Regions from separate parts of the Homo sapiens genome. Here all the other regions are reported to be linked to region 7. The links are microRNA targets in miRTarBase. Many come from high-throughput screens and were not tested one by one. Region 7 holds a microRNA gene; each other region holds the end of a gene's coding sequence.
What was found. Region 7 holds the annotated microRNA hsa-miR-6825-5p (UGGGGAGGUGUGGAGUCAGCAU, at 1,580-1,601, shown strand). A microRNA usually pairs through its seed, bases 2 to 8, with sites in the 3' UTR of a target mRNA and lowers its output. Matches are read on the target gene's strand: a 7mer-m8 pairs with bases 2 to 8, a 7mer-A1 pairs with bases 2 to 7 and ends in A, and an 8mer does both.

Region 1 (4,063 bases), not on the chromosome of region 7:
AAACTCACCCCCACTTTCCAATTGCAGCAAGAGAGCACCGTGGCTCAGTTGGTGCCTTTGCTGGGTAGTAGGTTTTCTTAGATGCAGCTGGAGTTTGCCTTAGGATTCCACATCTGACACTAAATTGTTAAAGAAAAACTTTAAACAAAATGAATTCAATAGAGTTTATTTGGGCAAAGAAGAATTCATGAACTGGGCAACACTCAAAACTGGAAAAGATTGAGAAAGTTTTTCTCTAGTAGCATAAACAGCAAGGTTTCCCAGGCTGAACAAGGGAGCAAAGTCAAGAAGTTACCTGATTGGCTTAGCTAGATGTCTACCTTATTTGGGCATGATGTAATGATAGGTGTAATGATGTCAATATTTATCTGCAGGCACTTGTAAACTTCAGAGAGACCAGAATCCCCTGAACGGATGTTAAAACCCAAGTTTTAGCCACCCCACTTCCCAAGACACTGACCAAGTAGGTGTGAGTGGGGCCAGGAAAATTGCATTTCTAACCAGCACACAGGGAATGGTGATGTTCCTGGTCCTAGGTGTTTGCCTTATTTGGGTATCTTGTGATCAGAGGTCCCTAGTTATATAACTAACTGGCTGCCTGTTTGTGGTTGATTGATGCTAGATTTTAATTTGTAAGTCAGCCATGAGAAATGCCTCCAAGTTAAGTTTTGGTTTGCTTATGAAAGAGCTCCAGGTACAAAAGCAACCTCATGATAATGACCTATTACTTGCTTTAATAGAGGACATTGTAATAATGTTTATTAAAAATTCTTAAGAAATTTTAATGAAAATATTGGGCAATAGTTTAATCTCTGAGCACATTGCCTATAAGAAAGCAATAACCATATATACACAGCGATAAATATAAAAGAAGCATTCATCATACCACTTTTCATAATACAAAAAAGTAGAAAAATTTAAACAATTAATTATGGGAACTGACTAAATATAAGCTCCAGCTCTGAGGAGCTGCAGTGCAGAGGGCCAGGCTGTCAGGGCCAGTGCAGCCTCTCTCTTCTCCAGAGGCACCGTCCTGTTGCCTGGGGTCTAGAAACTCTCCTTTTTCTTTACAATCAGGCATAGTGTTCTGACCCCTTCCCCAATTCAGCGTGCAATGAAGAAGCCATTCTCAGCCTCATCCCAATGCCCTTTGAGGTGAGTTACTTCTCACTTGTGGTTTGGTCTGCATGCACCCCGCAATGATGGCTTCTGAACCTGCACCATTCCAAGTGTGGTCTGGGTACCAGGAGCAGGTCCGTCCCAGGAGAGGTGGTGAGACATGCAAATTCCCTGGCCCTGCCCAGACCTAGTGGTTCAGATTCCTGGGGGATAGGGAGAATAAGAACTTAGGTTTAGGGTATTTAGAACTTGCCTTCAGGGTATTCTAGTCCCTTTGAAGTTCACAAGTAACTACAGATAAATGCTGAAGGCATCTTCATGGAGAAGAAACTTAAGTCTTGTCCAGAAAGAGTACTTTATTTAATTTTTAGCTGGAGGATGTGATGGTTTCTTTCTCGAGGCCAGACTGTGGACCATAGGGGTATATCCTGCTGGGAGGCAAATGCAGAAATTCAACCCTGAATTGGGTGCCCTGAGGCTGGGGAGACTGGGACATATACCTGCTCACTTCCAGTGACAGAATGTGACTCTCAGATGTGACCTTTCCCACACCTGCAGGGTGCACCTGCTCTGCTGATGGAGCTCATTTGCACAGATCAACCCCTGAGTGAAGCTGGGGGAGATACAGGTGCCTGGCGTGGGAGCTGGTAGCATGGTGTGTCTCAGGGGCACCAGGGTCCAGAGGAGCTCTTAGCATCAGAGACTGGTAACTATGGCCTGAGGCCCAAGCAGCTCACTGCCTGTTTGTGTAAATAAACACTTATTGGAACACAACCACTCTTACATGTTTGCACATTGGCTATTGCTCCTTTCAAGATACGACAGCAATTCTGAGTAGCTGAGAGAGACCATCTGCCCACAAAGGCCAGAATAGTTACTCTCTGGCTTCTTCAGAAAATTTTTTTGCCAAACCCTGGTTTAGGTGATTTGGGCAATGTCTTGGTAGCATCTAGTCTGCCCGTGCCTCTCACACTGCATCCCCTGGGGGTGTGCATTCCTGCAAATCCTGCATTTTCAGGGGATTTCTGCATCCCTGGGGATTTGTAAGAGCGCAGATGCATTTTCCAAAGGTCAGAGGCCCTGAAGTTGGACATTTCTAAGATTCTTTCAGAAGATGCTGCTGCTCCAGATGCCAGGACAGCTTTATAAGGGTGAGGCTAGAAGTCCTTCCTCTTCCCACCAACCTTCCACGAACCAGGAAAGGTGTGTGAGCCACCCCTTGAGAACAGAGGCCACATGTGCTGAGTGGGACCCAGAGGCCCTGTCTTGCTCAGTTGTGCACATTGGGTGTCCTGCAAGATCACAGACATTTTACCTCTGGCCACATGGGTCATCATCAGCCACGAGCATGGAGACAGCAGCTCAGACTTATCTTGGTTGTGCCACCTGGAAGCTGGCTTATGAGGTCTTAAGGGAGGGAGGACCCCACTGACACAGATGCAAATAGGCTGCCCTTCTGAGAGGAACTCCATCAACTGCTCAGCCCCCTCCCTCCAGAACATGGCACAGGAAGCTTCTGCAAATGCTGATGTTTAATGACCTATTCTACTTGAGGAACCTGGACAGTGAGGATTTTCTAAAATGCCAAGTCATAAAACCTCAGACACTTGCAAAATAAGAGAACAAATATGCACGGAGCTGCTCAGCCACTGATATGTCAACTCCTGGGAACAGCTGGTGTCCACGGGGGAGGGGGCAGCATGTGGCCAGGCATGTGAGTGGCTTCCACTCAGGAGAGCCCCTCTGAGCAGGTCTTGTTCAGGAGTTCAAAATATGTCTTCCAGGGCATGGTTTCAACAGTGAAGAAGCAGCTGAAGGTCCGAGGGAACAAACAGGAAGAGACAGTAGGGCGGGGTTTGGGGAGGTTCGGGAATCTTGTGGCATCTGCCCTCAACACAGGTTCCATCTCCACCTTGCCCATTCCTGGGGCCAGCAATTGTGCCACGTGGCTCTGGCCTTCAGGTCTAGCCTGAGCCTGAGGCCAATCCTGAACTACAACGTGATTTGAGGCTCCCTCCCTCCTTAGCCAGGGTCACTTGTGCCATGCCTCCTCCTCCAGCCCGTGCCCCTCAGGGGAACCCCAGGCTGTCCTGGTGTGATCCCTGCATCCAAGAGCAGCAGGAGAATGTTTTGTCCCAGTGGAAGCAGTTCCCAGACTTAGGCAATTAGTTACCTATTTGTTAATCTTACAATAAGGGGGTTGACTAAGAATGGGAAGTTTTCCCAGAGCCAGGCTTTGCTTGGAGCTCGTCCCCTAGAGCAGGTGCTGCAGCTCAGCAGGGCCTAGGAGCGAGGGCAGTGGGGCTTCTTCTCAGCCTCCACCACTTTTGGGTCTAGGGCAGGGTAGGGAAACCCTGAGAAAAGTACCCACAGACATTGTCACCATTGTCTCCAGGCTCTTTCTCTAGAAGGCAGGGAAGAAGTGGGGAGGAAGACCAGAGAGAAGGTTCTGAAGGCCATGTGGCCCAGGTGCAGGCAGCTGCAATGGTGTCAGAGGGCAGAATCAGGAAACTCAGATTGGCCAGGGGCCTGAAAGTGAACCCCTGGGCTTAATGCCTCACTGGGCTTCCCACTAAGGCACAAGCAGGGCAGCCTGGTACAGCCTGCTGTGGGCTCACTTCCCTTTGTCCCTCGGAATGGCTTTGTCAGCTGCTCCTGTGCCCACACCACACCCCATGCAGCATCCACAGCTGTGGACCTGAGGAAAGCTGATGCCCTGTCTTACGTTGTTCAGCTCCAGGCTTTCTTGAAAAGGGCAGTTGTCAATGTCATCTTCAAATTTCCTACATACGGTTTGGCGCAGTTGCAGATTCATGGAGAACACCATCTTACCTCGCCACTGTTGGACAAAAGAAGATTAAAGTGGATGCACCGTCTTCCTGCCCCTAAGTAGCTACTAGTGAAGATGCCATTTGAGTAGGAGAGGCCCCAACACTTTACTGCA
Region 2 (4,063 bases), not on the chromosome of region 7:
GGAGGCTGAATTAAATCTGAGAAGGGAACATTGGTAGACTGCAGGCCGGACAGGCCTGGGTGGGTTACGGAGTTACGGGGGCGAGAGCCAGGGTGGGCTTCCTCTCTCCCAACGCGAGCCTACACTGTCCTTTCCTCCCAGGCCGCGACGGTATGACCATCTTTGGGCAGCGGCAGACCCCTAAGAAGCGGCGAAAGTCGCGCACGGCCTTCACCAACCACCAGATCTATGAATTGGAAAAGCGCTTTCTATACCAGAAGTACCTGTCCCCCGCCGATCGCGACCAAATCGCGCAGCAGCTGGGCCTCACCAACGCGCAAGTCATCACCTGGTTCCAGAATCGGCGCGCTAAGCTCAAGCGGGACCTGGAGGAGATGAAGGCCGACGTAGAGTCCGCCAAGAAACTGGGCCCCAGCGGGCAGATGGACATCGTGGCGCTGGCCGAACTCGAGCAGAACTCGGAGGCCACAGCCGGCGGTGGCGGCGGCTGCGGCAGGGCCAAGTCGAGGCCCGGCTCTCCGGTCCTCCCCCCAGGCGCCCCGAAGGCCCCGGGCGCTGGCGCCCTGCAGCTCTCGCCTGCCTCTCCGCTCACGGACCAGCCGGCCAGCAGCCAGGACTGCTCGGAGGACGAGGAAGACGAAGAGATCGACGTGGACGATTGAGCGGCGCCCCGGGTCTTCCGCCGCCCTGGGCTCCTAGCGCTCGAAAGCCCAACGCCTCCCGGACCGGACCGCCGAGGGGAGCTGGGACCTCCTCTGCCAACTCCCGCCTCCTCCCCTGTCCCCGGCCCCGGACTCGGCTCCTGGCAGCCGCCTCTTCCCTCTCGAAGCAATAAACCCAGGCTGGCCGGCCGGGCCGGCCGCCACCAGCGGCCTCCGCCGCCCCGGAAGCCCTCGCCGTGCAATTCTGTATGGCTTCTATATAAATATTTAAACCTATATAGCGGGTTCTTCCCACCGCAGCCTGATTTTTCCTTTCTTTTATTATTATTTTTTAAATCTCGGAGATTTCGATGTTTTCAAAGCTCTCGGGCTGCCGGGTTTGCTGAGGGCGAGACAGAAACCAGGGCGGGGAACACTAACCCTGCGGTCTAGGGGAGTGGCAGCTCCGGCTGTTTTGATTTTTCTCTGCATGTGGCGAATGCACCGGCCCGCTCCTTCCTCGCCTCCCTCGGCCTTATTGCAGTTGACTTCTATTTCCTCGGGCCTTTTTTCCTCATGTGGGAGGGGAAGAGGTGGGCAGTCAGGTCCTGACTTGCAAGTTTCAAAATCGATCTTTCCTCCCCACCCTCTGAGAGAAAAGTCTGTTTTCGATGCCATTTCTGCCTCCTAATGCCCACTAATGCTGTTTTTAAGATTCCTCCCTCCCTCCCGCATTTCCTCGGACTGACTGTTGGAGTCCGGCTCTTAGGGACAATGCAGGGGGAAATCCAACCAACCAACTATCGAAAACAGAACCCAAAGCCCTATAATTATTTTGTACTCTTTTTAGAATTTTTTTGCATGTGACAGAGACAGAGAGGAGGCCGACCCAAGCCCTCACCTCACCTCCTCCACAGCTCTGGGTCTCTCTTGCCACTTCGAACACCCCACTCCTACCCGACTTGGCCAGAGGAGGGTGGCTGGATGTGAGTGGGCTGCGAGTGCCCCTTCCCTGCTCCTCCCTTCCCCTCTCCTCCCTAGACTGTACCCAAGGCCTCTTTCTCCAATAAATAAAGTCTTTGCCATTTTACTAGAACCGGCGGCGACCGTGTCTGAGTGGTGGGCCCGTTTCCGAGAAGCAGCGGCAGGCTGGGCTTCTTGCCGCTCTTCGTGCCGGTCGCCCTAGCCTTGGAGATTTGGGGGGGATTTTCAGGACAGGCTTAAGAGTGAAGGGCGAGGGGGAAGCAGCAGGAGGAGGCGCCTCTTGCCCATAAACCTGAGGCAGCTGCTAAATCGGGAGAGAAGCGGGCTTCGCCAGGTCGGGGTAAAAAACGAGCCGTGAAATGCTGGGAGAAAATGCCTGTGTATGTGGGGGCACACCACAGTACAACATTAATTTGTGTTGAACAAAGGGTGGGAGGGGGTCTTGCCCTGCATTTCCTGCATCCCACCCCAGACCCAAGGGCATTCTCCCTGCACTCCCCGAAAACAGGGCTGAGCCCCGGGAGCGCTGCAGGTATCACTCAGTCAGACGCGGGGTGGAGCCTTGGGTTCCCAAGTTTCGATTCTAGCCCCGAGGGCCTCATCCTTGGGGAGTCGGGGGCCAAAGGCTAAAGGCATCAAGGCCAGGCTGAATTTCAATGTGGGCACCTGGAACTGTAAGCCCAAGCGTCTGGGAGCTGGTGTGAATTTCTGGCAACATTAACCAATTCTGCCTCCACACCCCGGCACACCGCTGGGGGCAGAGGTATGGATCTTGCAAGGACTCTCTCGGGTCTGCGGCGCCCCAAGGCCGGCTGGGGCGGGGGCTGAGGCCGCTTTCACTTTCCTGGACAGAGCGGGTTTCTCTCCGGGCTTTTGTTGTCGCTGGGCTGGCGAGTAGCCGCTGTCACCGGAGTGGGGTCCCGCCTCCGGGCCGCTGGGCTCTCTTTCTCCGCAAAATTGATGTGAGAAATGCGCATCTGGTCTCGGGCGGCGATGGGGCCCCCGGGCCCGAGCCAGGAACGTGCGTGTCCAGGAGGAAACGAAGAGACAGAGAGAAACAGGAAAAAAAAATAGGAGCACAGAAAGACACTCCAAAAGCAGAGAGAGAAAGCGGAGAGCCACAGAGACAGGACGGAGAAAAAGAGGAAAAAGAGAGAGAAACAGAGAAACGGAGAAAGGGAGACAGAGACAGAGGGAGAAAAAAAGAATGGGAAGAGAGGAGAAGAGAGAGAAGGAGCAGAGAAGGAAGGAGACGGCAGGGCAGCGGGGCAGGCGTGCGGCTGGTTCCTCCCGGGCGACAAAAATTGCCCTCTCTTAGGATGGATGGGTCTGTAATTCGGAGCGCGGACCATGAAGGCCGGGACGAATGGGCCTGGGCGGCCGCTGACAGGCGACAATAGCCGGGCCCAGCCCCCCGCGGCTCCCGGTGCGGGCACGGCCGCGGCCCTCCGCAGCCCAGAGCGCGCCGGCGCTGGCGACCATATGGTTTTTGAATTTTCTTCACAATTTGTAGACAATTTGATGGATTAGGTCCCCGCGCGCGCCTCCTCGGCACAAAGGCGGCGCAGGGACCACGGCGGGTCGGTCACCCGGGCATCTGCGCCCGCCGTGCGCACCCCCCCACTCGGCCCCCGCCCCGCGCCCGAAGCCCCAGGCCGCCCGCCCAACACGCTCATGAATCCCAATGAAGCGGCCCTGGCACCTCCGGCCGCTCTCTGCTTCGCGGCCCTGGGCCTGGCCCCGCTGGGTCCCTTTGGGCTGGGGGCGGCGGCCCCAGGGCTGAGCCCACCCGAGCTGCGGCGCCCGCGGGGCGCGCAGCTAAGCAGGCGCGTCGGGGCTGAGGAGAAACGGGGCCATTTATCCGCCCGTCTAGTTAAAGCGGGTTATTTGTTTGCTTCTCCGGCCTGCCCCCTCCCCTCCCTTCCCCCTCTCTCCTCCCCCGCCCTTCCCCTTCTGCCTTTTATTCTTTTGTCTCTAAATGGATTTAATGAGCCTGAAAAACATGACAATTGAATATAACCAAGAAATAAAAAATAACGAGGGAGGAAGGAAGGAGGAAAAGAAAGAATGAAAGAAGGAAGGGGAAGGATTAATAAAATAAGGAGAAAACGCAATTCAATTCAGCAAATGTTTATTGCGCGTCTTTTCTGCGCCAGGCCGCGCAGGGGGGCTGGGAAAATGGAAACGAATCAGATTCGGTTCCTGCCCTCAAGGAGCTCCTAGTCTAGTGGGCAAGACTCGCAGCACCCCCAGCGCTAGTAGAAGCGGACCGAGGGACAGGGCCGTGCCAGTTGCAAAACACTGAGAGGCAGCTACCAGGGTGTTGGCGGCTTCACAGAGGAGGTGGCTTGGGACCCGGGCCTTGAAAGGCGAAAAGTAGTTCGTTGTTTCCATAGGCCAGAGAAGAGAGCCAGTGGAAGGAAGGACCAGAGCTGCGG
Region 3 (4,063 bases), not on the chromosome of region 7:
GGTGCTACTGTCCAGTGAAAAATGATTTCTTCTTGGTATCAACTATGAAAACACCAAGAACCATGCATACATCAGTTATGGCTCTCGATAGATTATTTGTCATAGGTGGAAAAACTAGAGGATCCCGGGACATTAAAAGTCTCTTAGATGTTGAATCTTACAATCCTCTTTCCAAAGAATGGATATCTGTTAGCCCATTACCCAGAGGCATATACTATCCAGAAGCAAGCACATGCCAAAATGTAATTTATGTTCTTGGATCAGAGGTAGAGATTACAGATGCTTTTAACCCATCACTTGATTGCTTTTTTAAATACAATGCTACAACTGATCAGTGGTCTGAACTAGTAGCAGAGTTTGGGCAATTTTTTCATGCAACATTAATTAAAGCTGTACCAGTAAACTGTACACTGTATATATGTGACCTTTCCACCTATAAGGTTTATAGTTTTTGTCCAGACACTTGTGTTTGGAAAGGCGAAGGATCTTTTGAGTGTGCAGGCTTTAATGCAGGTGCAATTGGAATTGAAGATAAAATTTATATATTAGGTGGTGATTATGCACCAGATGAAATCACAGATGAAGTGCAGGTCTACCACAGCAACAGGTCTGAATGGGAAGAAGTTTCACCAATGCCTAGAGCCTTAACAGAATTTTACTGCCAGGTGATTCAGTTTAATAAATACAGAGACCCATGGTTTTCTAATCTATGTGCTTGAACATTCTAAAACGAGTCCAGTTCTAGTAACCTAAAGTAAATTTGTTAACCAAAATGATAGGTAAAAAGATCTATACATCTTAATGAAATAAAACATTCCTGCTTTTAGTTATTATGTATGTACACCATATATGAATAAACAGTTTCCAAAAACTTAAAATACAAAATATATTTTACCAAAAATTATACTGAATATAATTTAACCTTGGGGAATCCAGAATACTTAGTATTTTCACATGAAACTACAAATCATAGACTCTGACACTTTGATTTTTAAAGTACTCTGTCCATAAAAGATTTGTACTGTTTAGATGGGAGAAACCTCTAGAGAGAGTAAAAATGAATTACACTGTATCTTATATGAAGTAAAAAATAAATCAGAGGTGAGAATATTGTTACTGCGGGTATGAGTTGTTGAATTCCTATCATTTGTGATGATTGGTTAACTTCTTTTAGGTACCCTTTTTACCCTTTTTTAGTTCAGAAATAATTCTCCCAGCTTTATAAATAGTACACTAAACATAGTTTAACTTTTTTTAATGACTCATTTTTTCATTAAAAGCATAATGTACCATGTTATAATGCCATTAGCAGTTACTTAAATGCTTTAAAAATTGCTGATTAGTTTTCAATGTCAGTTGGTTTCAATTTCTAGCTCTCTCTCTCTCTCTCCTCCCCCCCTCTCATTTTCTGGTTCAATCTTAGTAAATTAACATTCTGGATTTAATTAGTAGTTCTAAGTTACACCTGGCCTGAGTTTATGTTAACATGTAACCCTCAATTGGAAATTTTTGGATTCTGGGATGGCAGTACTAAAATACTTTTTATGTATCATTGCTAGGTTCCAGCCTAATTAAGGACATAGAAAATTGACCTCTAATTAAGTGGATCATTATTATGGCATTTCTTAAGCTTTATCCAAATTTCAGCTACATAAAACATTTCAGGATTTAAATTAGTACCATATCAATTTTCTGTGATGATGTATACCAACTATAAAGCACTATGTTGGTTTACTACTTCAGTAAATTATTCTTAGTGAATTATTTTCTAAATTAAAAAAAATGACTTGGCTTTTGGTATTGATAATAGTATTCACAACCTGCATCTGTTAAGATGTTTGATCTTTAACCCACACAATGTAAGGGTACTGTTGTCATTGTTCTCAGGTAGGTGATTCTGCCTTCCAAGAGTATATGTTTCTTTAATCAGTTTAAAAGATAAAGGCATTTTGGGTTTTAAGACCCCTGCTTTACATCTCAGGTAATGTGTAGATTGTACTTCTCTGGAACCAAATGTAGTTTTCTACACTCAGTTGTAAATGTTAATCTTTCTCAAATGTGCACATTCTTTAAAAGTGTGTTCCTAAGTAGAAATACACCTAAATGAAGATTCTCTTATTTTATCATATAAATTTATGCAACGATAAGTTCCAAATGTATTTTTCAAAACAGAATGGAATATCAGAGTACATTTTCATGAAGTTTAAAAATCAAGGACTGTTCCTGATTAGATGACGTATTTATTGGTGGCCTTCTTATCTAAGCACATGAGTAGTTGGCTCTGAACTTTGTGTATTTGAAAAAGGAAAATTCAGTGGAGGCTTTTGTTTGTGTGTGTGTGGCTTTGAAAACAAATTATTTGAGAAAGACCATAACACAGTGAGTAGCCTATATGTGCATTTACTGAATTGTTAATTTAAGGATATATATTAATAGAGTATGTTTAAAATAAATATTGTTTTCATCACTGACTTTAGGAATTGTTCATCTATTTCAGAAAGGAGAAACCCAAAATCAAATCCCTTTTTGATATTACTTCATTGTTGTATCATCTTCTTGATTTCCACTACTGTTCTGATTGGCCTTTGCTTTATGCTAATGTTTCCAGAAACATTCTTGTTATCAAAGCCTAGGTGGCTTCCTCTGCATTTGATTTAATACATTTTCTAATGCAGAAGGTTTTCTGCCCTAGTTTTTTCTTTTTAAATAATTACCGTGGGTTACTTTTTAATCATTTTCAGTGATTGCCATCCCTTTACTTCTGTACCTTTGTTCTCTCCACCAATTATCACTGCAAGGAAAATACTCTGTCTAATCAAAAACCTCCTACTCTTTATTTACTGTTTTTTTTTTCCTGATCACCATAGCAATCTATGCTAGACTCTGCTCCGCTAACTCCTCTCCTTTCATATTTGGCCTCTCCTTATAAAGATAGCACTTTCATTTGATCCATCTGCCTTATGGGAAAATGGTTTTGTGTCTTCAAAGCCCTCAAGGAACTCAACCACACAGGAGCAATGACTAAAGTCTGGTTATATCCTCTGGTCTTGTTAATGACTGTGGCTTCACTGTCTAAGAACCATATATATTATTCTGGCCTCACCCTCCTTTCTGGATTTCTGACCTGCAAATCTCAGTGATCCCTCAAGTCTATTCTCAGTACCTCCAGAAGGAGCTGTTTTTTCTGTCTGTGAGGTTAGGTAAGAGAAAATAACATCCTTTTATGGGCTCTTCCCTTAGTGTTTTTAAAAGTCTGTTTTCCTTTCATTATATCCGTCAGCCAATGCTACAGTGCAAGAGACAAAATAATTACGCTTATTATTCAGATTGCTATCATTCCTGTGGAAAAATTCTATTTAACGTTTCTAAATCCATTATCTTTGTCATGCTCCACTACATTTGCATTATGCATGCCAAAAATATTTTAATATTGTAATGTCTTCTAAAATTTAAAGTAGGTATACAGCATTATTAAATACAAAAAAGAGTATGTTTAAAACATGAGATCAATTCAAAGTTAATGGACATTCCTAAAATGTGGAGCAACTTTTGTTCATCTACACCCTTTGAAACTAAGTAGTATGAGGAATATTTGCATAATCAAAGCTAACTACTTTCCCATAATCAGCTCTGGTCTGGGGAGTGGAGGAGGTCATTATCACAGCAATATTCATTACGTGCTACCCTTGAAAGCTAGATTAATATTCAAGAGCGACCACATGCTGCAATATGATTCTGTATTTCTCAGATACCAAGAAGAGCAATTGAATATATGTTCAATGTGCTTATTAGCTCAAGGTATACCATTTGAAAATCAGAATTAAGCACAGAGGGATATATCTGTTTACATTTTGAGATTTGAATGCAATAAATATTATAATGTAATGATTAAGTAGTTGAATATATAATGTTACTTTAAGATCATCATGCTCAGTTTAATTGGATCTAGTGTTGTGGAAATTCTTATTTAGAATTGAAAGTATAAATCTCAAAAATGTTCTCTGAGGGGGCAGCTCTGAATGGCAACCTAAACACAAAGGCTGAAAATTATAGGGAGCTTATT
Region 4 (4,063 bases), not on the chromosome of region 7:
TCCCTGCCAGGGTCCCGCCTGGGGCCAGAGGCTGCGAGGGCCTGGGGAGCTTCAGCCTTGGGGGTCTGCGGCGGTTACTTACGGTTAACAGATTCTGGGCTCGCCGGAGAGTCCTTTCTAAGAGCTGGTAGGAAATAAGAGGATTATTTATTAGGGTCTCGTGTTGGGCCACCGGGGGGCGGGTAAGGGTTGTATTCTTTGTGCTTCTCCATGTTTTGAACTCACACCAGAGCTCAGCCTCTAAAACGGCACGGGACAAATGCCCGCCACCCTTTGGGATCTGCTGGAACGTGTCTGTCATCTCCCCCCGCCCCCGCTGACCCGCTGTCTGTCTCTGTCTCTCCGTCCAGGGGAACGCCCTTTTGCTTGTGACTGGCAGGGCTGCGACAAGAAGTTCGCCCGCTCCGACGAGCTGGCCCGCCACCACCGGACGCACACGGGCGAGAAGCGCTTCTCCTGCCCTCTGTGCTCCAAGCGCTTCACCCGCAGTGACCACCTGGCCAAGCACGCCCGCCGCCACCCCGGCTTCCACCCGGACCTGCTCCGGCGCCCTGGTGCCCGCAGTACCTCCCCCAGCGACTCGCTGCCCTGCAGCCTGGCCGGGAGCCCTGCGCCCAGCCCCGCGCCCAGCCCAGCCCCCGCAGGCCTGTAGGGCCCTCGTGCAGCCCACCCTGACCGCCAGGATGCTTCTGCCATCCAGGGGTGTAGTGAGGACCCACGGGGAGCCTGGGCCCCTTCCAGCCGTGGGCAAACCCTGAAGACACCCCTGCCCCCCTCCAGAGAGTGAGGAGGGGGCCTGAGACTGGACCTGGGTCTGCCTGACCTCAGAGGTGGCTCTCAGGATGGGTGACGGGGGCTTGTGTCTGTAAATAGCCATGATACTAACTTTCTTCCCATCTGTGCAACGGGGCCCCCCCAGGGCAGCTAGGAGGTCCTCCCCTCTCCTCTCCACCACCCCCTGCTGCCCCCCTCCCGGGGTGGGGTTTGGGGGGGTGGAGTGGACTTCTGGGAGCCGGCCCGGGGAAAGCACCCCCTGCCCCATCCCTGCAGATTGGGATGAAGTGTTCAGACAGCCATAGAGGAGTCGGGGGTTGACACGGCCCCTGCCTCTCCCCACCCCACCCCCACCCCACCGAAAGCCATGGGAGTAGTTCAGGGAAATGGGGGTGCAGCCCAGCCACCCCCCATTCGGGTACTCAATCTCAGGTGTCCACAAGTTCTGCCCACGGTAGGGGCTGCCTGGCCCCCCAGACCTCGGGGGTAGAGCCAGGAGTGGGGCAGCGTTAGGATGCCCGGAGGGGCTCCAGGTGTTGCTTCTGAGACCTGGGATGGGGAGGGAGGGGACCTCTGGGTTCTTCCAAAGAACATTTGACTCAGTGGGGTCGGGAGGGAATCCTGGCTTATTTATTTTCCTCTGTCCTCGGGTGTGGGGGCCCTAGCTCGCCCTCTCTGGGTGGGTGGGTGAGAGAGGCTGCAGGGGAGGCTGGCACCGGGCTTGGGCCTCCAGTCCCTGCCTTGCTGACTTTGGCCGTTGCGGTATCACGTGACAATCAACTCTCCCTTAACGACGACTGCGGCTGTTGGGCTGCGCTGCCCTCCCTGGCCTGCAGGTGGGGCCGTGGAGCCCATGCCCGCCGGGGTTGCAGGCTCTTCCGGGCCTGGGCTGCAGCCTGGCCCGGCCCTGCTTCCCTGGCCTCCCCTCCTTCTCCTGGGTGCTTGGAAGAGGTGGGTCCTGGCCCGTGGTTGAGGTCTTGCCTCGTGGACTGGAAGCAGAGGGCTGGCTGTGCAGCCTCCTGGGGTAGCTCGTTTTTTTTGCACCGGGTAGAATATTTTTTCAGGCACGGATTCCTTTTTTTCTGGGCCCCCATGGGTGGTCCGGCATCCTCAGGGGGTGTGAGTGTGTGTGGGGGGTCTCTGAGCTGAACTTGGGTGGGGTGGGGACTTGTTCCTCGGGGGCCACCTTTGTGTCCTTGTCAGCGGTCGTCCTGCTGTGGCCTGGGTTGCATTTCCTCTTGGGGGGGGTATTGAGGACCCCCAGCCTGGAATGAGAAGGGTCCCCGGTTCCATGTCAGACCCAGAAAGGTGGATCCCCCCACTGTTGGCTGCAGGAGGTTTTTGGTACCCCCTTTTGTTCCAGAACCGTCCTGCCTCTCGCTTGGGGACAGGGGGGCTTTGGATGGCACTGGTGTGCACCTGGACCCAGCCCCGGCCTGGCAGGATCCAGGGATGGGTGCCTGGGATCCTGGGGGGAGGGAGGCAGGGGACGCCCTTCTGGAGCTGGGCTCGGAGGGTCCTGCCCCATCCAGCCCTCGGCTCTCTGTGTTCTCTGTCCCTAGCCTCAAACCCTCTTCTGGCAGCGCTAGTGAGATGCCTTAGTCTGTGGGGGTGGGTGGGGGACTGGGGCCCCGTTTTCCTTTGTGAGTCTTGGTTGGCCCCAGCCCTGGCAGGGGCCTGTCTGGAGCAGGGGTAGGTAGGGCTGTGGGTTCCAGAACTCTATAACTGGGCCCCTCTCCAGTGTCCAGGGGCTTGGAGAGACCTGCGCCCACCCCTCCACTCTCCCAGGAGTCGCTGATCACTGGGACCTGGTTCCAGCCGTTTGCAGGGGAGGCGGCTCCGAGAGGCGTGTGCTTTCCGTGGGTGGCGCCCCTCCCCCGCCCTGCCTGGCCTCATCCTTGTATTTAATTAATTAAACAAGCCCCTTTTTAAACCCTACTCCAGCGTGTGTGTGGTCTCTCCCGTGGCAGTCCCCACCTGTGGGCACGCTCTGAATCCCTCTGTCCCACCCACCAGTGTGGTCCCAAGTTCATCCACCTCGTGGGGAAACCGAGGCAGCGGGCTAGTGAAGGGGGTCTTGGCCAGGCCCCTCTGGCTGAGACACAAAATGCCCTGCCCCTAGCCCTAAGCCCCGCGGAGGGGGCTGCCTGCAGCAGCGCGCGCTGCGCCCGCCGGGTGTCACCCACGCCTGGCGCAGCTGCGCCCCCCGCCCAGCTTCCCGCCCGCCCCGTTGCCTGGCAACCGAGGCACAGTGACAGGGCGCCCGGGGGCGTCCACCGCCCGCCCCTTCCGGTGCCGCAGGGGATGGGGGAGCCTGCGCCCCCGGGGCTGCTCGCCGGCGCGGGACAGGCTCCTCCACGGAGGGTCCCCCGGCCGCCTCCCAGGCTCCTGTGCTCCTGTATTGAGCGCCTACTGTATGCCAGCTCCCCTAGTGGGAATAGGGAAGAGGGGGCGGTGAGAGCTTTGAGGCCCTCCCCAGGAAAAAACCACTGTGGACTCCAGCGCTCCCCAGAGCCTGGAGGCCGGCGGGGCTGGGATGGGGCCGGGCAGGCCACTCCTACACACCTGCTGAGCCCTGGGGCTTCGCCTGCTGCCCGCCCGGGGAAGGGGGTGGTCGGCCTCTCGTATCGCGCGGCCGGCGCCGGCTCACGCCAGACCCCTCCCCAACCTGGGCGGCAAATTCCCGGCTTTACTCGAGGGCAGCCTCCCTCGTGCACCCCCAATCCTGCCCGACCCATCCTCCCATCCTACCGGACGCCCCACAAACATCACTCCCGGGACTCTCGCACCCCTCCAGCTCCTGCCTGGTTTTCTGCCCCTCTGGAGCAAAATGTCTAGAATATGGGGTCTACACTCGCAGCCTCACCCCTCTCTCTGACGGACACACTCGCATTAGGCTTTTAAATTACACGCCCCACCCCCAGCACACACACGTGCCCAGAAGCAGCACCATCCTTTTGGTGCCTTTGGGACCCCGACCCTCCCGGGCGTCCCTCCCACCCGCAGGCTGCTCTTGCCATGCCCCCTCCTCGGTCGAGGGCAGTTCCATCCTGCAAGGCCAAAATCCTTGGGGAGTCACCCTGGACCCCACTGTGTGTCTCACCACCCACATCTGGCCCATCTGAAACCTCCTTGGGCTCTACCTTCAAAATAGATCCAGGATCTGGCCGCCTTTCCCTGCTGTAAGGGCTTCCACCGCGACGGTCTAGCCTCCTCACGACTCACCTGAACCAGTGCAATCACCTTGGCCCTGGTCTCCTCACGGTTTGTCCTCCCCACGGCCACCAGA
Region 5 (4,063 bases), not on the chromosome of region 7:
CACCCATCCTCCTGTTTAAAAAATGTATTTGAGGCCGGGCACCGTGGCTCACACCTGTAATCCCAGCACTTTGGGAGGCCGAGGCGGGTGGGTCACGAGGTCAGGAGATCGAGACCATCCTGGCTAACACAGTGAAACCCCGTCTCTATTAAAAATACAAAAAATTAGCCGGGCGTGGTGGCGGGCGCCTGTAGTCCCAGCTACTCGGGAGGCTGAGGCAGGGGAATGGCGTGAACCCGGGAGGCGGAGCTTGCAGTGAGCGGAGATCGCGCCATTGCACTCCAGTGTGGGCGACGGAGTGAGACTCGGTCTCAAAAAACAAAGTATTTGAAAAAAAATATTAACATGTAGTAAGTTTATTCTTTTGTTGTTTTTTGGTTTTTTTTTTTTTTTTTGAGACAGAGTCTCGCTCTGTCGCCCACACTGGAGTGCAATGGAGCGATCTCCGCTCACTGCAAGCTCCCCGCCCAGGTTGATGCCATTCTCCTGCCTCAGCCTCCCGAGTAGCTGGGAATACAGGCGCCCGCCAGCATGCCCGGAGAATTTTTTGTATTTTTAGTGGAGATGGGGTTTCACCGTGTTAGCCAGCATGGTCTCGATCTCCTGACCTCGTGATCCGCCCGCCTCGGCCTCCCAAAGTGCTGGGATTACAGGCGTGAGCCACCGCGCCCGGCTGGGTTTGTTTTTTGAGACAGAATCTTGCTCTGTCACCCAGGTGGCAGTGCAGTGGCGTTATCTTGGCTCACAGCAACCTCTGCCTCCCAGGTTCAACTGATTCTTCTGCCTCAGCCTCCCAAGTAGCTGGGATTACAGGCACCTGCCACCACACCTGGCTAATTTTTGTATTTCTAGTAGAGACAGGGTTTCACCATGTGGGCCAGGCTGGTTTTGAACTCCTGACCTTGGGTGATCTGCCTGCCTCGGCCTCCCAAAGTGCTGGTATTACAGGTGTGAGCCACCACACCCCACAACCCCCCTTTTTTTCTCTCCAGAGTCTCACTCTGTCACCCAGGCTGGAGTGCAATGGTGCAATCTTGGCTTAGTGCAACCTCTGCCTCCCAGGTTCAAGCGATTCTCCTGCCTCAGCCTCCCGAGTAGCTGGGATTACAGGCGTGTGCCACCACGCCCAGCTAATTTTTTGTGTTTTCAGTAGAGACAGAGTTTCACTATGTTGGCCAGACTGGTCTTGAACCCCTGACCTCAGATGATCCGCCCACCTCGGCCTCCCAACGTGCTGGGATTACAGGCGTGAGCCACTGCGTCTGGCCGATGTTTGCTTTTTACGTAGGGCCAGTGACACTGGCTTTCCATCTGTGCAAGTTTCCTTTTTTTTTGAGCCGGTGGGGAGTGCAGTGGCGCGATCTGGGTTCACGGCAACCTCCGCCTCCCGGGTTCAAGCAATTCTCCTGCCTCAGCCTCCTGAGTAGCTAGAACTACAGGCACCCGCCACCGCGCCCGGCTAATTTTTGTATTTTTAGTAGAGGCCGGGTTTCACCACGTTGGCCAGGATGGCAGGGTCAGCCCTGGGCACACCTGGCTACAGGGCACCCGGGGCCTGGGTGGGAGGAGGCGCTGCAGGGGGGCATCCTGCCAGAGGCCATATGCTGAGGGGTCTCCCAAGGGAGAAGACGGCCTGGGGGAACCACACATGCTCACAGCACAAACGCGGCAGGTCCCTGGCTCTAAGTGCAGAAACATGTATTTATTTCCAGGATATTTTCACATAACAAAACCCCAACGATGCGGCGAGGGGCCACACACGGCGGGGGAGGGGTGGGGGGGGGTTGGGCCTGCCAGGTGAGATTTTGTCTGCATCAGTGCAGGCGAGAGGCTGGGGAAGGGGGTGCCTCTTGGCAGACTGGCCGGGGGCAGGACCTGAAGACCCTGAAGCATGGCCGTGAGACCCATGGGTGCTCCATCCTGGCTGCCGTCCATCGAGACACCATGGCCGCCTCCGGGCACCCAGCGGCATTCCGTACCAGCGAGGGGACTGGCTCACATCCTGGGGAGGGCTCCAGGGCAGCAGGCGTCCTACAGCAACAGCATCCTGGGGGTGAACGGGTGGGGAGGGGTGGCAGCCTGGGGTGTCCAAAGTTGTGGTCAGCGAGTGCAGGAAATGATGAAGGAAAAGTTTCTTTTTGGCCCAACCGTTGTGAATGGTGCTGTGAAAATGTCTTGCCTGGGAGAGGTGTTCCAGGGGGAGTTGGGGGGTGAGGGGACAAGACAATTGTGGCCGCTGCCGGACCCCTCCATAAGGCACAGATTTGACGGGTCCCCTCTCATAAAAGGCCACTCCAGGCTGGGCGCGGTGGCTGACACCTATTATCCCAGCACTTTGGGAGGCCAAGGCGGGTGGATCACTTGAGGTCAGGAGTTCGAGACCAGCCTGGCCAACATGGTGAAACCCCATCTGTACTAAAAATATAAAAATTAGCTGGGCGTGGTGGCAGGCAACTGTAATCCCAGCTATTTGGGAGGCTGAGGCAGGAGAACTGCTTGAACACGGGAGGCAGAGGTTGCAGTGAGCCGAGATCACACCACTGCACTCCAGCCTGGGCGACAGAGTGAAACTCTTGTCTCAAAAGAGAAAAAACAAAACAAAACAAAACACAAAGGCCTCTCCTGCAGGGCTCCGGCTGCTGGGAAACCGGCTCTCTGCCGGTTTGCTGGGTTTGGGGAGCGGCTGTGCTCCCGACCTGGCCTGGGTCCCCGACTCTGAACTCAGGGGCGTGGAAAGACAGCCTGCCAGGGATCCCTGTTTTGGAGGCAGGGAGGGTGGCCCCAGGATACCCTGGACCAGGAACTCCCCAGGTATGGTGCACGTGGGGAGGGGGCGAGGCTGGAGCCGCACAGATCAGGGGATGGCGGGGACAGCGAGGACTCAGCTAGGCACCAAGCCCTCTATCACTGCAGGGGACCGGAAGCTGGCCCCGACGCCTCTTATTAGTTCCGGCCAAGGGCATCTGCCATGGTGACGGCGGGTGGCCGGTGAGACGGAGCTCCCCATCAGACCCGCTCTGACCTCAGCGCCAGCAGCTCTGGGAGGACGGGAGGGCGGCCGACCTGCTGCCACCTGTCCCCCGGAGTCAGGCCTCGAGACCTGAAGACAAGGCCGTACCAGCCGTGCAGTGGACGGCGGGTGACCACACGTTTCCGGGAGCAAGAGGGCGTCCTGTGGACGGCAGAGGCCAAGGGCTGCTGGGGAGTGCTTGTGAGGAACTCCGCTCTCGGATGAGATGAACACGGGTTCTGTGGCCCTGGCAGGAGGGGGGCGGTCCGTGGCCACCACCGGCTTCCACCATCCCAGCTGGGGGGATGGGGCCCCAGGTACTCCCAGCCCTCGGGACCAGGGGTAGCAGCAGGAATGAAGGGGAGGAGGTGGTGGGCGGTGGGGGCAGGGCAGGCTCCCTCTAAGGCCACTGGCCACTGCCCGGGTAGCTGGGCACAGTGGGGTACTCGGGCAGGCTGTTGCCTGAGAAGTTGTTGTACTGGGCCTCCCTCGACGGTGGGTTCCGCCAAGTGCCCGTGTTCCACTCCGTCTGTGCCTTCTGGAAGCTTCCGCCAGCCCCTCGGTAGATCCTGTGCACCTGCAAGGACAGAGGACAGGGAGGCAGAAGACAGAAAATGAGCATGGCGGCCGGGCACGGGGACTCACGCCTGTCATCCCAGCACTTCGGGAGGCCGAGGCAGACAGACTGTCTGAGCTCTGGAGTTCGAGACCAGTCCAAACAACATGGTGAAACCCTGTCTCTACTACAATATAAAAAATAGGCCGGGCACGGTGGCTCACGCCTGTCATCCCAGCACTTCGGGAGGCCGAGGCGGGAGGATCACGAGGTCAGGAGATTGAGACCATCCTGGCTAACACGGTGAAAACCTGTCTCTACCAAAAATACAAAAACAAAATAATTAGCCAGGTGCGGTAGCGGGCGCCTGTAGTCCCAGCTACTCGGGAGGCTGAGGCAGGAGAATGGCATGAACCCCAGAGGCGGAGCTTGCAGTGAGCAGAGATCGCACCACTACACTCCAGCCTGGGTGACAGAGCGAGACTCTGTCTAAAAAA
Region 6 (4,056 bases), not on the chromosome of region 7:
CCTGGGAGAGTGCACTCACCCTGGGGGAGTACAAAAAACCGTGCTGGCTTCATCCTGCGGTCTCAAGTACAGGTCAGAGGGTGCTATTTTCACCAAAGAATTAAATCATGAGTTCATCATAATACATCATCTCTCATGGTCCCCTTCCAAATCCACATCCATCCATCACCATAACAGCCCACAGCCCATAATAAGTGGGGATGGTAACCAAAATGGAGGCAGGGTACCTGCGAGGCATCCTGGGGCTGCACTGCTGATCCTCTTCTCTCTCCCCTGGCCCTGAGTGCTGCCTTCATGTGGCTCAGCCCTTCCGTCCTTCAAGCCTTCATCAGCTTCAGGGCAGCCCCGAGTCTGTGCCCAGGTACACTGGCTAAAATGCAGTGTCTTCCAAATAGCCATATCTCATTTTAATCAGGGAGCAATTCCAGCATGGAAGTCCCCATCATGCTCCTGCTGGCAGGTACAGGTGCCAGTTTGTGACGGATGAAAGCACCGACAGCCCACGCGTCTTCATCATGGAGGCCTGTGCCCCAGACTGTGCCCAGCACAACAGCTGGGCGGCAAGGGTGGGCCAGGGTCGAGCAAATGACACGTTCCCTTTGGCTAAGGAAGACACCCCAGAAGCAAAATGCTCCATGCGACAGCCAGGCATTCAGGCTACAAGCTCGGTGGCGGGGAGGCAGCCGGGAGCCTTCTCAGAGGAGAAGGGTCCCGTGATCATTCCACAGATGCTTTCAGAGCTCTGGGCTCAGGGTAACCGACCAATTATGGTGCTGCCAGAGGGCCTGCATTTACTATACACACGTCACAAAATCAGGCTTCCCCGGGAGGAGCCATCGGACTCTGTGCAGAGGGCCCATGTGACAATATAAAAGTGATTTCTGGCCGGGCGCGGTGGCTAACGCCTAATCTCAGCACTTTGGGGAGGCCGAGGCAGGTGGACGATGAGGTCAGGAGTTCGAGAGCAGCCTGGCCAGTATGGTGAAACCCCGTCTCTACTAAAATAAAATACAAAAAAGATTTAGCCAGGCGTGGTGGCACACGTCTGTAGTCCCAGCTACTGGGGAGGCTGAGGCAGGAAAATCGCTTGAACCCGGGAGATGGAGATTGCCATGAGCCGAGATCACGCCACTGCACTCCAGCCTGGGCAAAAGTGATTTCTATGCAAAGCAGGTTTTAAGAATATTGCACCAAGGAAGCCATAGCTTTGCACAACTCCATGGAATAACCAAGTTTTTTAGTGAACCACAAGAGGGAGCTGTTGGTTAACTTTGGAGAGCCCACTGGCTGATGGGTGAGGAACTGAAGGAAGCGCTCTGATGATTAAGTTTTGGCCACTGGGAAGGAGTCACTTGTTTCTAAGAGAGTCTATTTCAGGTTTTAAGAAATGAAAAGTCACAAATGACCCTGAAAATTCCTGAGATAGGGGCTCCCAGAGCCAGAGGGCTCACTAGGTTCTGGGGATTTTTGGACGTATCCACGGCTATGTCCTGGATTAGACCAGGGCAAGGCACCCTTTGACTCAGCACAGTGGGTGATAACCCCATGGACACGGGGCAGTGTCTGGAGACATCCTTGGTTGCCACGAATGGTGGGAGTGCTGGCATCTGGTGGGCAGAGACCAGGGACACTGGAACATCCTGTGATGCTCTGGGCAGCTCCTTCCCCTGAAGAATGATCTCGCCCGGTATGTTCACAGTGCTGAGGGTGACAGTCCCTAACCTCCATCAAAGGAGCAATTTTCCCTCCAGGTGGGAACGGCCTCTCCTGGCTGTGGTGAGAGGGGCTGGTCTGGAAGTTTCTCTCCAGGTGGGAAAGGCCTCTCCTGGCTGTGGTGTGAAGGGCTGGTCTGGAAGCTTCTCTCCAGGCAGGAACGGCCTCTCCTGGCTGTGGTGTGTGGGGCTGGTCTGAAAGTTTCTCTCCAGGCAGAAAAGGTCTCTCCTGGCTGTGGTGTGAGGAGCTGGCCTGAAGCTTCTCTCCAGGCGGGAAAGGCCTCTCCTGGCTGTGGTGTGAGGGGCTGGTCTGGAAGTTCCTCTCCCGGTGGGAAAGGCCTCTTCTGGCTGTAGTGAGAGGGCTGGTCTGGAAGTTTCTCTCCCGGTGGGAAAGGCCTCTCCTGGCTGTGGTGTGAGGGGCTGGTCTGGAAGTTTCTCTCCCGGTGGGAAAGGCCTCTCCTGGCGGTGGTGTGAGGGGCTGGTCTGGAAGTTTCTCTCCAGGTGAGAAAGGCCCCTCTTGGCTGTGGTATGAGGGGCTGGTCTGGAAGTTTCTCTCCAGGTGGGAAAGGCCTCTCCTGGCTGTGGTGTGAGGGGCTGGTCTGGAAGCTTCTCTCCAGGTGGTAAAGGCCTCTCCTGGCTGTGGTGAGAGGGGCTGGTCTGGAAGTTTCTGTCCAGGTGGGAAAGGCCTCTCCTGGCTGTGGTGTGTGAGAGGCTTGTCCGGAAGTTTCCAGGCGGGAAAGGCCTCTCCTGGCTGTAGTGAGAGGGCTGGTCTGGAAGTTTCTCTCCAGGCTGGAAAGGCTTCTCTTGGCTGTGGTGTGAGGGGCTGGTCTGGAAGTTTCTCTACCGGTGGGAAAGGCCTCTCCTGGCTGTGGTGAGAGGGGATGGTCTGGAAATTTCTCTCCAGGTGAGAAAGGCCCCTCTTGGCTGTGGTATGAGGGGCTGGTCTGGAAGTTTCTCTCCAGGTGGGAAAGGCCCCTCCTGGCTGTGGTGTGTGAAGGGCTGGTCTGGAAGCTTCTCTCCAGATGGGAAAGGCCTCTTCTGGGTGTGGTGAGAGGGCTGGTCTGGAAGTTTCTGGATGCTCTCAGCATCTATCAGGGAGAGCAGGTGCCCCCATGACATCTCTCTGCACGGGCAGGGTGTCTACTGTCCGGAAGAAGCCCCTCCCCAGGTGAAGTGAGGGTTGGGCCACACCCTCTTCCTCATATTCTAAGTGTCCTCAGAGAATACATTTCTGCAGGTGTCATTATGTATCTGTGTGTCCTCAGCCCCAGATGGGCCCAGACAGGCCTTTGGGCCAGGGATTCCAGAGTCTGCATCAGGGGTCCTTGGCCTGAGGCTCGGACCCCTCAAGACGTCCCTCCTTGGGGAGAAAGATCCATGAGGCATCGAGCCAGGGCTCCAAGCCAAATGAAATGCAAACTCACAGAGACGTGTTTCCAAGACGGGAATGCCTAATTTTCTCAGGTGATACTCATTTATGCTTTTAGGGCACATTTCTATTCTTTCTCTGTCCCTCTCAGAAGAGCCTAGAGATGCCGCTGTCCTCTCCGTCCTCGCTGCCTCTCAGCACTGCAGGAGGGAAGGTGGAATTCACACCCAGACCCAGGGCTTCAGGTCTTGTCCCACCGACTGGTCTTAAACTACAAGTTGCTTCTTCTCTTTAGCATCTTCTTTGAGTTCCCACTGTCCCCAGCTTCACTTTCTTGCTGACTCAGCCTTTTGCTGCTTAAAACAGAGAAGAAAGGCAGCCAGTTAGAACGCTGACTCCATGCCCATCATGATGCCATAACTTACCCAATCGGATTAAATGAAAATGCAGCCAAAGGTGATCAAAACAATTTTTACTTTGACATGGGTTGTTAAGAAACCAATAAAACCCGTTTCCCTCCTTGGGTAGGAGGTCATCCAAGTGCCATGACCACAGCCATCCCTGGTCAAAGAAGGGACTGCCCAACACTTCAGGCTGGATGCCAATGGGGTGTGGAGGTAGGTCAAGGCTCATCTGGCCAAATGAGACACAAACAGGAAGGGTAACAGCCATGTGGCACCCCTGGTATCATCATGGCTTACTGCCCACAAATTACGTTCATATCTGTCATTTCTTGAACCTTCACATTTAATGCCTCTGAGGGGACTGATGATTTTCCTGCCCTGACTTTTGGCACACAGCAGCTGAGTGCATTTACCAAACCCAGCCACAGGCAACAGGTCCGGGGCCCAGTCATACCTGAGTGAGCCTGAGGTCTGGTCCCCGGAGGCAAGGTCCTCATTGTTGGGCACCCCCAGGTCCCCTCTTTCCTGGGGCAGGGGCTTCTTCCTTTTAGTCCTTAGGGGCTTCTCTGTA
Region 7 (4,063 bases):
CTCTGCGTGCAGATCCTGTGGGAGATCACCCGCTTCTTCCTGCTGGCCATCGAGCTGAGTGTGATCATCCTGGGCCTGGCCTTTGGTGTGTGTACCGCTGGGCTCTTGGGCCCTGGCGATGCTCTCCCCTGCCCCTCCCTGGCTGTGGGCTGACTCTGGAGTGGTCACCTGGGCTGGCTCCTGCCTGCTGACCAGCATGTTTCTTCCAGGCCACCTGGAGAGTAAGTCCAGCATCAAGCGGGTGCTGGCCATCACCACAGTGCTGTCCCTGGCCTACTCTGTCACCCAGGTAAGAGGGTGAGTGTGGGCAGGGGACGCTAGGAGTCAGGGCACCAGGCACCCACTGCTTCTGGGTCTGGGTCAGGTTTCCAGTCTTTATCACCTTCAGAGTTCTCAAAACTTTGCACCTGAGAAATCACATGGGGTGCTTGTTACCGAGGCACATTCTGGGGTCCCCTGGAGATTTGGATCCAGTGGGCCAGGGCGCCAGGATGGGAGGCTCAGGACTTGCCGTTTTAATAAGGAGTTCAGGTAGGGATGGTGCAGGTCCGCAGACCCCCCTGAGAAGCATGCATCTAGAGGCCCCTTTCTTAGATTGGGGGCAGGGACTGCACCTTGTCCATCTCTGCCCCCTTCCCCATGTGACTCAGCCCAAGACTGGGCCGGCTCTGGATGCTGCAATCAGTTGGGCAGGACATGGCCAGGGAGCAGACTGGGGCAGGTGAGTTGAGGGTCAGGCCAAGAGGCTGAACTTGGTGTGGTGGAGAGCTTAGGGGGCTTTGCATCAGGGAAAGCCCCTGGGAGAGAGAAGCCTTGAGATCCTCTCCCTTCCTCCCTTCCTGCTTGCCCCTGCAGGGGACCCTGGAGATCCTGTACCCTGATGCCCATCTCTCAGCTGAGGACTTTAATATCTATGGCCATGGGGGCCGCCAGTTCTGGCTGGTCAGCTCCTGCTTCTTCTTCCTGGTGAGGTTCAGGCTGGGGCAGCTGGGGTGGCTGGGGCCTTAGGGCCAGGTAGGGATTGGATTCCTGGGTTTCTGGCTGTGGGTCTGGGCTGGCGCCCCCAGCACCTTCTCAGCCCTGCCTGTCTCTGTAGGTCTACTCTCTGGTGGTCATCCTTCCCAAGACCCCGCTGAAGGAGCGCATCTCCCTGCCTTGTGAGCAGCTGGCCGGCGGCTCTGGGACAGGCGGGGATGGGAGGGAGTCTACCGGGCCACTGTAGAGCTGGTAGCTGGGAGCTGGAGCTGTAGAGTTCCAGGCTGGGAGCTGGAGAGCCCTGGGTGAGAGGGAGGCCTAGAGGGGCCCCGGGGGACACACCAGGCTTGAGGGTAGTAGGTGCTGGAGGCAGAGCCTGGCCTGTCCAGGGTGGGACCTCACGACCCACCCTGTCCGGCCCCCAGCTCGGAGGAGCTTCTACGTGTATGCGGGCATCCTGGCACTGCTCAACCTACTGCAGGGGCTGGGGAGTGTGCTGCTGTGCTTCGACATCATCGAGGGGCTCTGGTGCGTGGGGGCCGCAGGGTGTCTGCCTCGTGGGGGCATGGGAAGTGGGCGGCAGGGTGTCCACCCGCTGGGGGCATGGGGAGGTGTGGAGTCAGCATGGGGCTAGGAGGCCCCGCGCTGACCCGCCTTCTCCGCAGCTGTGTAGATGCCACAACCTTCCTGTACTTCAGCTTCTTCGCTCCGCTCATCTACGTGGCTTTCCTCCGGGGCTTCTTCGGGTGAGTCTGTGGCCGCCGGCGCCCCCGCGTGGCTGCCGGCGGAACTGCGCCTTCTTCCAGCATGGGTGTGAGGATTGAAGCTGAGAGGCTGTGTATGCATACAGTGCGCATGCGCACGCACATACATACATGCACTTGGGCACACACATACAGATACACATGCACATGCACACAGATATACGCACACCCACCCACATGTGCATGGACACGTGCACATGCACACACGGATGCACAAGCATGCACACATGCACATGCACACACAAACACGCACATACGGATACACACGGGCATATGCACACAAACATGCACGTGCACACCCACATGCATGCATACACACATGAACACGTGCTCAACATATACATACATGTAGATATATGCACATATCCACATATACATACATATATATGCACATTGTATGTACAGTACACACAGACATACTCTCCCCACGAGAGAGAGAGTGACTATGCACGGTGTTCTACATTGCTGGTTTTTATTTAATAATATATTAACTCATTCATTCGCAAGCATTCATTGAGCACCTACTGTGTGCCAGACACTGCTAGAGCCAGAAGATGCGAGGCCCACAGCGGATGCAAATCCTGTCCTCACAAAGCTTGTACCCTGTTGGGGGAAGACTTAAGTGGGGAGCAGGTTTGGGGTGGGAAGTCAGTTGGATTCTCTGGGGGTGAGTACACTGCTGTGCACATGTGCATCTGCAGAAGCGTCTGTGAGATGGGATGCTGAAGACATGGGATTGGGGGTCCCACTCCAGACCTTAATGTGGTCGGAATGTGGGTGTTTTGTCCCCCCTTTCTCACCTGCCAGGTCTTGTGGGGAGGGGATCAGCCTCCCACCTGGGTGAAGCTGGGAGAGGGCCAGACTGGTCCATGGCCCCAGCTTGGATCTTTGCACACAATTTCTCCCCTGAGCCTCAGGCTCCTTTTTGTAAATTGGGTGTAGTGTGTCCCCCTTGGAGAGTTGCCCTGAGGGCCGAGGGACGAGGTCAGAGTGGAGTGGGTGGTAACATGAGCAGCAGGGGTCACAGGAGTGGGGGCGGAGGCCACAGCCAATGTCTCCTGAGTGCTTGGGCAGGCACTGTTGAAGCCTCATGATTTATGTCCATTCTTCCTCCACACGGTGTCCACACACCCATTTCACCATGAGGAAGCAGGCACAGATGCCCCCCGCCTGAGCTCACACAGCCAGGGGGAGGAGGGCTGGGTTCCAAAACAAGTCTAGATGGGCTCTGGGGTCCAGCTCACAGGCCCACTCAGAGTGGGTGTCAGGCGACTGTTGGTCAATTCCTTCCTTATCTGGTGGCCCCATCAGCCTGGAGAGGAAGGCTCTTCCTGAATCACTCAGTGAGGCTTCCATGCCCCTCTTTTCCTTTTATCAGCTCGGAGCCCAAGATCCTCTTCTCCTACAAATGCCAAGTGGACGAGACAGAGGAGCCAGATGTACACCTACCCCAGCCCTACGCTGTGGCCCGGCGGGAGGGCCTGGAGGCTGCAGGGGCTGCTGGGGCCTCAGCTGCCAGCTACTCGAGCACGCAGTTCGACTCTGCCGGCGGGGTGGCCTACCTGGATGACATCGCTTCCATGCCCTGCCACACTGGCAGCATCAACAGCACAGACAGCGAGCGCTGGAAGGCCATCAATGCCTGAGGGCAGCTGCCAGGGCCTGTGGAGGACAGGCCAGAGAGGAGGCCAGCAGGCCCAGAGTCCCCAGGGGAGGAGGACCAGGTCAAGGGACGTTCTGTGGGCAGTAGCCCTGTGTGGCCCTGTTCCCACCATGAGTCTGGAGGCCCCACCTCCCTGGGGCTCCCAATCCCCTTTGCCATCTCTGCTCTCACTGGGGACCCTCCTCCCCTTCCCACCTGCTCTCATACTGCTCAGTGACATGGCCCAGGCTTTCCTTCCAGGGCCATGCTTGGCAAGGTTGGCTGAGGGCACCCTCCTTCTCTGCACCCTTGGCACGAGGGCAGGGCTGGCTCTCCCAATGCCTCCATCCCATCCCCATGGTGCTTTGGCCTCCTCAAAGCATCCACCATGGTGGATGGACTGAAGTGTGTATATTTTCTTGATCTATTTTTTAATAAAAAGGAAAAGGAGCAGAAGGTGCTAATGTGGAGGTTTTGCAGGAATACTGGGGCTGGTTCCTTTCAGGAGCCTGAGGGCTGGGTGAGGGGCTGGGAGGCTCAGGGGGCCTCTGCTCAACCAAGGAGCAGTCCCCAGTGCCCAAGCCCTGGGCTGGCTGCTGGGGAGGTGAAGAGAAACAGGATCCCAGCTGCCGCTGCCCCTGCCCCTGGGCCCATCTGAGTAGGGGGGACAGACATGGAGAGA

Region 1: the mRNA of CST9 is a reported target of hsa-miR-6825-5p. Seed matches in the 3' UTR shown: 8mer at 3,543-3,550, 8mer at 2,977-2,984 and 7mer-m8 at 2,806-2,812.
Region 2: the mRNA of LBX1 is a reported target of hsa-miR-6825-5p. Seed matches in the 3' UTR shown: 7mer-m8 at 772-778.
Region 3: miRTarBase lists KBTBD3 as a target of hsa-miR-6825-5p. Seed matches in the 3' UTR shown: 7mer-m8 at 1,390-1,396.
Region 4: miRTarBase lists KLF16 as a target of hsa-miR-6825-5p. Seed matches in the 3' UTR shown: 7mer-m8 at 934-940, 7mer-A1 at 1,110-1,116, 7mer-m8 at 1,694-1,700 and 7mer-m8 at 2,646-2,652.
Region 5: miRTarBase lists SCAMP4 as a target of hsa-miR-6825-5p. Seed matches in the 3' UTR shown: 7mer-m8 at 3,370-3,376, 7mer-A1 at 3,200-3,206, 8mer at 2,824-2,831, 7mer-A1 at 2,674-2,680, 8mer at 2,063-2,070, 8mer at 2,004-2,011 and 1 more.
Region 6: miRTarBase lists EVC as a target of hsa-miR-6825-5p. Seed matches in the 3' UTR shown: 7mer-A1 at 3,075-3,081, 8mer at 1,062-1,069, 8mer at 921-928 and 7mer-m8 at 674-680.

What each region holds. Positions count from the first base shown.
Region 1 is chr20:23,599,777-23,603,839 of GRCh38, forward strand. It overlaps CST9 (cystatin 9), which reads right to left. Exons shown (of 2, transcript NM_001008693.3): 2 at 2,634-3,958. The coding sequence ends at 3,734. Among named protein-coding and RNA genes, the nearest start is that of CST9, 4.1 kb to the right of the region's middle. RefSeq lists an enhancer at 2,590-3,091.
Region 2 is chr10:101,223,869-101,227,931 of GRCh38, reverse strand. LBX1 (ladybird homeobox 1) reads left to right here. Exons shown (of 2, transcript NM_006562.5): 2 at 142-938. The coding sequence ends at 662. LOC124902491 (a long non-coding RNA gene) reads right to left here. Exons shown (of 2, transcript XR_007062267.1): 2 at 3,740-4,063. Among named protein-coding and RNA genes, the nearest start is that of LBX1, 3.6 kb to the left of the region's middle. RefSeq lists an enhancer at 1,317-1,818.
Region 3 is chr11:106,049,506-106,053,568 of GRCh38, reverse strand. KBTBD3 (kelch repeat and BTB domain containing 3) reads left to right here. Exons shown (of 4, transcript NM_198439.3): 4 at 1-2,471. The coding sequence ends at 719. Among named protein-coding and RNA genes, the nearest start is that of KBTBD3, 26 kb to the left of the region's middle.
Region 4 is chr19:1,851,048-1,855,110 of GRCh38, reverse strand. KLF16 (KLF transcription factor 16) reads left to right here. Exons shown (of 2, transcript NM_031918.4): 2 at 351-2,712. The coding sequence ends at 652. Among named protein-coding and RNA genes, the nearest start is that of REXO1, 4.6 kb to the right of the region's middle. RefSeq lists enhancers at 1-55, 56-613, 614-1,170.
Region 5 is chr19:1,923,632-1,927,694 of GRCh38, reverse strand. SCAMP4 (secretory carrier membrane protein 4) reads right to left here. Exons shown (of 7, transcript NM_079834.4): 7 at 1,682-3,587. The coding sequence ends at 3,411. Among named protein-coding and RNA genes, the nearest start is that of CSNK1G2, 16 kb to the left of the region's middle.
Region 6 is chr4:5,810,334-5,814,389 of GRCh38, reverse strand. It overlaps EVC (EvC ciliary complex subunit 1), which reads right to left. Exons shown (of 21, transcript NM_153717.3): 20 at 3,940-4,051; 21 at 85-3,437. The coding sequence ends at 3,353. Among named protein-coding and RNA genes, the nearest start is that of CRMP1, 81 kb to the left of the region's middle. RefSeq lists an enhancer at 1,359-1,408.
Region 7 is chr3:127,572,843-127,576,905 of GRCh38, reverse strand. It overlaps MIR6825 (microRNA 6825), which reads left to right and starts at 1,575; the gene lies at 1,575-1,640. TPRA1 (transmembrane protein adipocyte associated 1) reads left to right here. Exons shown (of 11, transcript NM_001136053.4): 5 at 13-85; 6 at 210-289; 7 at 856-966; 8 at 1,097-1,157; 9 at 1,401-1,503; 10 at 1,641-1,721; 11 at 3,118-4,063. The coding sequence ends at 3,385. RefSeq lists enhancers at 871-1,449, 1,450-2,029 and a silencer at 1,417-1,596.